2 linked regions of the Homo sapiens genome follow. The protein of the gene in region 1 interacts with the protein of each later gene in a pairwise test. Each region holds a gene or a part of one and is shown on either strand. Other genes may lie near its edges. The genes, in order: CAMTA2 and ZNF483.

Region 1 (3,818 bases):
GGCTAATTTTTGTATTTTTAGTAGAGATGGGGTTTCACTATGTTGGCCAGGCTGGTCTCGAACTCTAGACCTAGTGATCCGCCCATCTCGGCCTCCTACAGTGCTAGGATTACAGGCATGAGCCACCACGCCCGGCTGGAACCTTTGTTATTAACCACCACTGATACTGGCTCTTTCTGGAGGAGGCACAGTCCTTGTGTTACACATTTTCTGTATTCTGCATACTTACTGCCTTGTATGTAGTTGGTTGTTGATATTTATCAATTTGATGTCAGAAGAGGACTGTCAGTAAAACGATGCGTGTATGTGTGTATGTGTGATTGTTGTAAGTGCTATAGAGCGTTTAGGAAGGTCCAGTGTGGTCAGCAGGGCTTCATGGAGCATCTGAAAAGGGGTTTGGTTTATAGAATGGCTATGATTTCCAGATATGGAGAGGTGTGCACATGGTACCTGCCTTGTAGGGCACTAACATGCAGGAGGTAACTATTCAAAGCATGTTCAGGAAGGAATCAATGGATCCATCTGGCAGGAATTGTAGGAGCAATATGGGTAAATAGTGGGAACAGTGAAAGTTTGATCCCTTGTTGGGAAGAACCTTGGAGTCAGGCTAAAGAATCTGAAACTCCTGCCAGGCACAGTGGCTCACGCCTGTAATCCCAGCACTTTGGGAGGCTGAGGCGGGTGGATCACGAGGTCGGGAGATCAAGACCATCCTAGCTAACACAGTGAAACCCCGTCTCTACTAAAAATACAAAAAATTAGCCGGGCGTGGTCGTGGGCGCCTGTAGTCCCAGCTACTCAGGAGGCTGAGGCAGGAGAATGGCATGAACCCAGGAGGAAGAGCTTGCAGTGAGCCGAGATGGCGCCACTGCACTCCAGCCTGGGTGACAGAGCGAGACTCTGTCTCAAAAAAATAAATAAATAAATAAATAATCTGAAATTCCTGGCAGTGTCAAACCACTGAAATTTTTTGAGTCAGGAAGGGGCACAGAGGCCAGGAGTGGTGGCTCATGCCTGTAATCCCAGCACTTTGAGAGGCTGAGGTAGGCGGATCACCAGAGGTCAGGAGTTCAAGACCAGCATGGCCAACATGGTGAAACCCCGTTTCTACTAAAAATACAAAAATTAGCTGGGCACGGTGGCAAGTGCCTGTAATCGCAGCTACTCTGGAGGCTGAGGTAAGAGAATTGCTTGATCCTGGGGGGCGGAGGTTGCAGTGAGCTGAGATCATGCCATTGCACTCCAGCCTGGGTGACAGAGTAAGATTCTGCCTCAAAAGAAAAAAAAAAAAGTCTGGGCACGGTGGCTCACGCCTGTAATCCCAGCACTTTGGGAGGCCAAGGCGGGTGGATCACCTGAGGTCAGGAGTTCGAGACCAGCCTTACCAACATGGTGAAATCCTGTCTCTACTAAAAAAAATACAAAATTACCCGGGCATGGTGGCGCATGCCTGTAATCCCAGCTACCCGGGAGGCTGAGGCAGGAGAATTGCTTGAACCCGGGAGGCAGAGGTTGCAGTGAGCTGAGATCGCGCCATTGCACTCCAGCCTGGGCAACAAGAGTGAAACTCCATCTCAAAAGAAAAAAAAAGGGGCACAGGAATGAGATTTTTGGAGAGTAAAATAATTCACAAAAAAATGTTAGACTTTTGTCTTAGGACAAAAGAAGGGTTCTTAGGAGGGCAGTGGGTCTTGCTGGGTCCAGATACCTAGAAGCATCCTCCACTAGCTGCCAGAACTCAGCAGAGAGTGAGACACTGACAGGATGACCAAGAGGCCAGGCTGAGACTCTCTGTGAAGGAGATGCCCAGCTGAGTGCCTCCTCTCCTACAGGAGATTGCATCCTACCTGATCACCTTTGAGAAGCATGATGAGTGGCTGTCTTGTGCCCCAAAGACAAGGTGAGAAAGTTTGAGAACATGGGGGAGTGGCAGGGGTCCTGGGTTCTGTTCACAGAACTCCAGGGCAACCCTTCCCTTCCCAGGCCTCAGAATGGCTCCATCATCCTCTACAATCGCAAGAAGGTGAAATATCGGAAGGATGGTTACCTCTGGAAGAAGCGGAAGGATGGGAAGACCACCCGAGAGGACCACATGAAGCTGAAGGTCCAGGGCATGGAGGTAAGAGAGTCAGATATTCAGCTCATCTTCCCGAGCCTGCCCTCCTCCACCCTTAGCTGGGCTCTAGCCCGACCTGGGCTTGGTGGCATTGTCCACCTCAGTCCCCTCCCAGTTACTCTTCCCTTCTCACTCACTTTGGGTCGGCTGACATTGCTTTGGCCACTCTCCACTTCCCATTTCCCTCCGTGACTCAACTATCCAGGCCGTAGGCCATGCCTCCCTTCCAGAACACTGATGCCCAGGCCCCTCACTGCTCTTGTGTTTCCCTCAGGGATCCCAGCAATGATGCTCTCAGCACAGGTTTCTCTTCCCCAAATCATTGCCCCTCATCTCAGATGCATTCTTGCTCTGCCCTCTGGTTTCTAGATAGTCCCGTATCTCAAATCTGGTCCTCACTATAAGGCCCCAGCCCCACTGCTCATCTATGACTCAGGGTGGCTGGGATTCAAAAGGGGTGGGGAATAGGTGGGGGCGAGGGTGGGGGAAGGGTTGAAGAGGAACTGGTGGAAAGATTGGGATTCCTGCAAAGGGACTGAACAGAGGAAGAGTTGGGGAGCAGACTAGCCCTCCCCCCACCCCAGCCTGTCTCCTGGCAGTGTCTCTATGGCTGCTACGTTCACTCTTCCATCGTCCCCACATTCCATCGGCGCTGCTACTGGCTGCTCCAGGTAAGGACGGAAGAGCCCAGGGAGCCACCCTCTTCCTGACTCTTTGAGGGACACGGGTCTGAAAGAAGGAAGTGAAAGGATGGCTGAGTTCTGAGTGAGGAAAGGAGCCTGGGAAGAAGAGAAAGGGGCTTGGGGATGGAGAGAGTCAGAAATTGGGGGCGAGGTTAGGAGGGTGCCCAGGAAGAAAGTGAGGATTAGGAAGCCAAGCCCCTGGACCTCAGGACCCCATGGCTCTGTGTGTCCCCTTATACTCTCAGAACCCTGACATCGTCCTTGTGCACTACCTGAACGTCCCAGCCCTGGAGGACTGTGGAAAGGGCTGCAGCCCCATCTTTTGTTCCATCAGCAGCGACCGTCGAGAGTGGCTGAAGTGGTCCCGGGAGGAGTTGTTGGGACAGCTGAAGCCCATGTGTAAGGCAGCAGGGTGGGGATAGAGCTCCAAGGGGAGAGTAGAAACAGGGCTCCCAGAGGGGCCATGGTTCTGGACCCAAAGCCTGAGGGCTGATCATCTCCCTCCAAGCTGGGAGGGTGCTAGGATTCCCGGTGTGTTCTCAGGTATTAGAATACGGAGAAAGGACTAAAGCAACATATCTGAGCAGTCTTGAGGCTGCTGGCCTCTGTTCACCTGGCCAGAAGTCTTGAAGCATGTCAGGTGCTTGGAGGAGCCATCAAGGTACTCTGGGGCCTGTTTCGTGGGGATCCCACAGCACTTCCCCCTAACTTCTCTAGTTCATGGCATCAAGTGGAGCTGCGGGAATGGAACAGAAGAGTTCTCTGTAGAACACCTGGTGCAGCAGATTTTGGACACCCACCCAACCAAGCCTGCTCCCCGAACCCACGCCTGTCTCTGCAGTGGGGGGCTTGGTAAGTTACTCCCTGACCTTTTGGCTGTCTTCCCACCTAGCCACACTGCTCTTACGCAAGCCAGGGGGATATCCATCTTGATGGGATTTGCATGCTGATTTGCAAGTCTTTTGCATGTCCCAGAAAGATGGGCCAGATGAACAGACGTTCCCATCTGGGTGCACACT
Region 2 (3,818 bases), on another chromosome or scaffold:
TACTCCATCATTGACTGGGAGCAACTCGTGGGAATTTGTGTGAATGCAGTGTTGGATTCATAGAGCAGCAGCAGGGGTTGTCAGGTAATATCCCCGCAGGGGGAGGTGTGAGTGGTGCATTTTTATGGACACTAGAGGACGTATCGAAACAAGAGTGTTAACACTGATGCATACTATATCAAGCACATGTATAAGGAGCTGTGGGAATATACAGGAGCAAGGTTTTAATTCGCATTTGAGTTGAATCTTGAAGGATGAGTAGGAATTCATCCAGTGGACAGCATGCATAATAATTCCATTTTTGTTAAAGGGAAAAAATGTACATATAAATACATGCCTGAATACATAGAGTATATGGATTTTTAATATCTGGAAAACATTCATGTTAACACTGGTTATCTTTGAAGAATTAGGTTTTGTTTTGTTTTCTTGAGATGGAGTCTTGCTCTGTCACCAGGCTGGAGTGCAGTGGTGCAGTCTCAGCTCACTGCAACCTCTGCCTCCCAGGTTCAAGTGATTCTCTTGCCTCGGCCTCCCAAGTAGCTGGGACTACAAGCATGTGCCACCACGCCAAGCTAATTTTTTTTGTATTTTTAGTAGAGGCGGGGTTTCACCATATTGGCCAGGATGGTCTTGATCTCCTGACCTCGTGATCTTCCTACCTCGGCTTCCCGAAGTGCTAGGATGACAGGCATGAGCCACCGTGCCCGGCCAGGATTAGGTTTTTTTATACTTACCTATATCTTACAATTTATATATATTATTATTCTTTTTTTTTTTTTTGAGACAGAGTTACCCAGGCTGGAGTGCAGTGCCGTGATCTTGGCTCACTGCAACCTCTGCCTCCTGGGTTCAAGCAATTCTCTCCTGCCTCAGCCTCCCAACTAGCTGGGACTATAGGCACGCGCCACCACGCCCAGCTAATTTTTTTTGTATTTTTATTAGTAGAGATGGCGTTTCCCCATGGAAAGGAGGTGGATCACTCCTGACCTCAAGTGATCCACCCGCCTTGGCCTCTCAAAGTACTGGGATTACAGGCATGAGCCACTGTGCCCGGCCACAATTTATATATATATATTAAATTTACATTTAAAAAAATAAAAATAGGCCAAGCGTGGTGGCTCACACCTGTAATCCCAGCACTTTGGGAGGCTGAGGCAGGCAGATCATGAGGTCAGGAGATCAAGACCATCCTGACTAACACGGTGAAACCCCGTCTCTACTAAAAATACAAAAAAAAAAAATTAACCAGGCTTGGTGGTGGGCGCCTGTAATCCCAGCTACTCTGGAGGCTGAGGCAGGAGAATCGCTTGAACCTGGGAAGTGGAGCTTGCACTGAGCCGAGATGGCGCCACAGCACTCCAGCCTGGGCGACAGAGCGAGACTCCATCTCAAAAAATAAAAACAAAAGTAAGTTATTACATGTATCAATACCTTGGTTTATCTTAAAAGAAAGAAGCAATGATCCATCTTGCTCTATTCCATCTTCTCAAACATTTATTGTAGTCAACTTATTGGCTGTTTCCAGTATACAATTGACCCTTGAACAACAGGATTAGGGGCCACTGACCGCACCCCCCCCGCCCCCGTACAGTTGAAAATCCATGTATAACCGTTAACTCTCCAAAAACATAACTACTAATAGCCTACTGTTGACCTGAAGCCTTATTGATAACATAAACATAATTACATATGTTATGTGTTTTTTATACTGTATTCTAGTAAGCTAGAGAAAAATGCTATTAAGACAAGAAAGAAAATAACATTTACGGTACTGTACTGTGTGTATCGATCACTAAATTTATGTTGTTTGTCTGAAATGGCAGACAATTGCAGCTGCAGACCTCAGTCTATGGTACATATCAAGCAGTTCAGCTTTTTCTTGAAGTATCATGACTATTCTGTGCTTGTTGGGAGCACTTCCAGCATTACTAGCAGCACTTTGTATGGGTCCCATGATGTTATTCAAGATTTACAGTATTGCACTAAACACAGTGAAAAATAGGAGGGAACCGCAAGAGATCCATTTTTACGGTGATAGGCAATTTCCTGGAGACATAAACTGCTTATGTGGAGATGATTAGCATTACGTGGCTTTTTTTTTTTTGGAGACAGAGTCTCACTCTGTCACGCAGGCTGGAGTGCAATGGCGTGATGTCAGCTCACTGCAGCCTCCACCTCCTGGGTTCAAGTGATTCTGCTGCCTCAGCCCACCAAGTAGCTGTGATTACAGGCATGCACCACCATGCCCAGCTAAATTTTGTATTTTCAGTAGAGACGGGGTTTAACCATGTTGATCTCGAGCTCCTGACCTCAAGTGATCTTCCTGCCTTGGCTTCCTAAAGTGCTGGGTTTACAGGCGTGAGCCACAGCGCCTGGCCTACCTGGCATTTTAAGTGGATACTTAGAGCAGACATTTGAGCTCATTGCAATACCAACAAGAGGTGCCTATGAAATTATTACAGTGTATAGTATGTACTACAGTTTTATGCAGTTATTATTATTATTATTTTGTGACAGGGTCTTGCTCTGTCATTCAGGCTAGGGTGCAGTGGCATGATCACGGCTCACTACAGCCTCCACCTCCTGGGCTGAAGCGATCCTCTCACCTCAGCCTCTTGAGTAGCTGGTATTACAGGCACATGCCACCATGTTCAGCTAATTTTTGTATTTTTTGTAGAGAGAGAGTTTTGTCATGTTGTTCAGGCTGGTCTCCAACTCCTGGGCTCAAACAAACTGTTTGCCTTGGCCTCCCAAAGTGGTGGGATTATGGGGGTGAGCCAGTGCGCCTGGCCCAGTTATTATTTAATACTGTATCTTTACATTTGTTTACATTTCTCTTGACTGTGAATGACACCAAGTACGGCCTGTAAGTGTGTGTGTACGTTTTGATAAATTTTAACTTGATAATTTGTGTACATTTTATAGTAGTAAATGACAAAATAGACTAGTATCTATATATCTTAAAAATACATGACATACATTTTTGGGGTTGTTTTTTTTTTTGACATGTCTAGGCTACACAGTTTGTCTGCAAGTTTTTTCAAATTGTCACAAATCTCCAAAAATTTTTCTAACATGTTTATTGAAAAAAATCCACGGGCTGGGCATGGCGGCTCCCACCTGTAATCTCAACACTTTGGGAGGTCAAAGCAGGAAGACCACTTGAAGCCAGGAGTTTGAGACCAGCCTGGGCAGCATAGTGAGACCCTGTTTCTACAAAAAATTTAAACATCAGCCAGGCACAGTGGTGTGTGCCGTGGTGAGAGGATTGCTTGAGCCCAGGGGTTAGAGGTTGCAGTGAGCTATAATCATGCCACTGTACTCCAGCCTGGATGACAGAACAAGACCCCATCTCTTAGAAAAAAAAAAAAACCACCTGTAAGTGGACACTTGCAGTTCAAATCTGTGTTGTTCAAGGGTCAACTGTGATTACATAAATAAAGGACAACAGTTGTTTTATCATATTTAAGTAGCATTTTGGAGAGGAATTTAACAAATGGATTCTGAAAGTGTTTTGTGTAGTTCTAGCAGCACTGGTATAAATATATGTCCCTTCCCCAATTATCTTACATAAAAGAAAATGCCTCATGTTGATACACAGCTTGTTTTAAAAGTTATTTACGACACACCAGAGAAAAAAGTTTTGACAGATACAGCAGAGTCAATGGCAATAATTAAAAAACAAACAAAAAAACTCAGCCAGGTGTGGTGGCTCACCTGTAATCCCAGCACTTTGGGAAGCCGAGGCAGGTGGATCACCTGAGGTCAGGAGTTCGAGACCAACCTGGCCAACATGGTAAAACCCCATCTCTACT

The links.
Region 2: the proteins of CAMTA2 (region 1) and ZNF483 interact in a two-hybrid assay, tested with the Homo sapiens proteins (one large-scale study listed by BioGRID).

Annotation. Positions count from the first base shown.
Region 1 is NC_000017.11:4,981,058-4,984,875, reverse strand, and holds part of CAMTA2 (calmodulin-binding transcription activator 2), read left to right. Parts: intron 1-1,832; coding exon 1,833-1,900; intron 1,901-1,983; coding exon 1,984-2,119; intron 2,120-2,700; coding exon of another isoform or gene 2,701-2,715; coding exon 2,716-2,787; intron 2,788-3,044; coding exon 3,045-3,198; intron 3,199-3,516; coding exon 3,517-3,651; intron 3,652-3,818. UniProt on the Homo sapiens protein: Transcription activator. May act as tumor suppressor.
Region 2 is NC_000009.12:111,535,132-111,538,949, forward strand, and holds part of ZNF483 (zinc finger protein 483), read left to right. Parts: intron 1-3,818. UniProt on the Homo sapiens protein: May be involved in transcriptional regulation.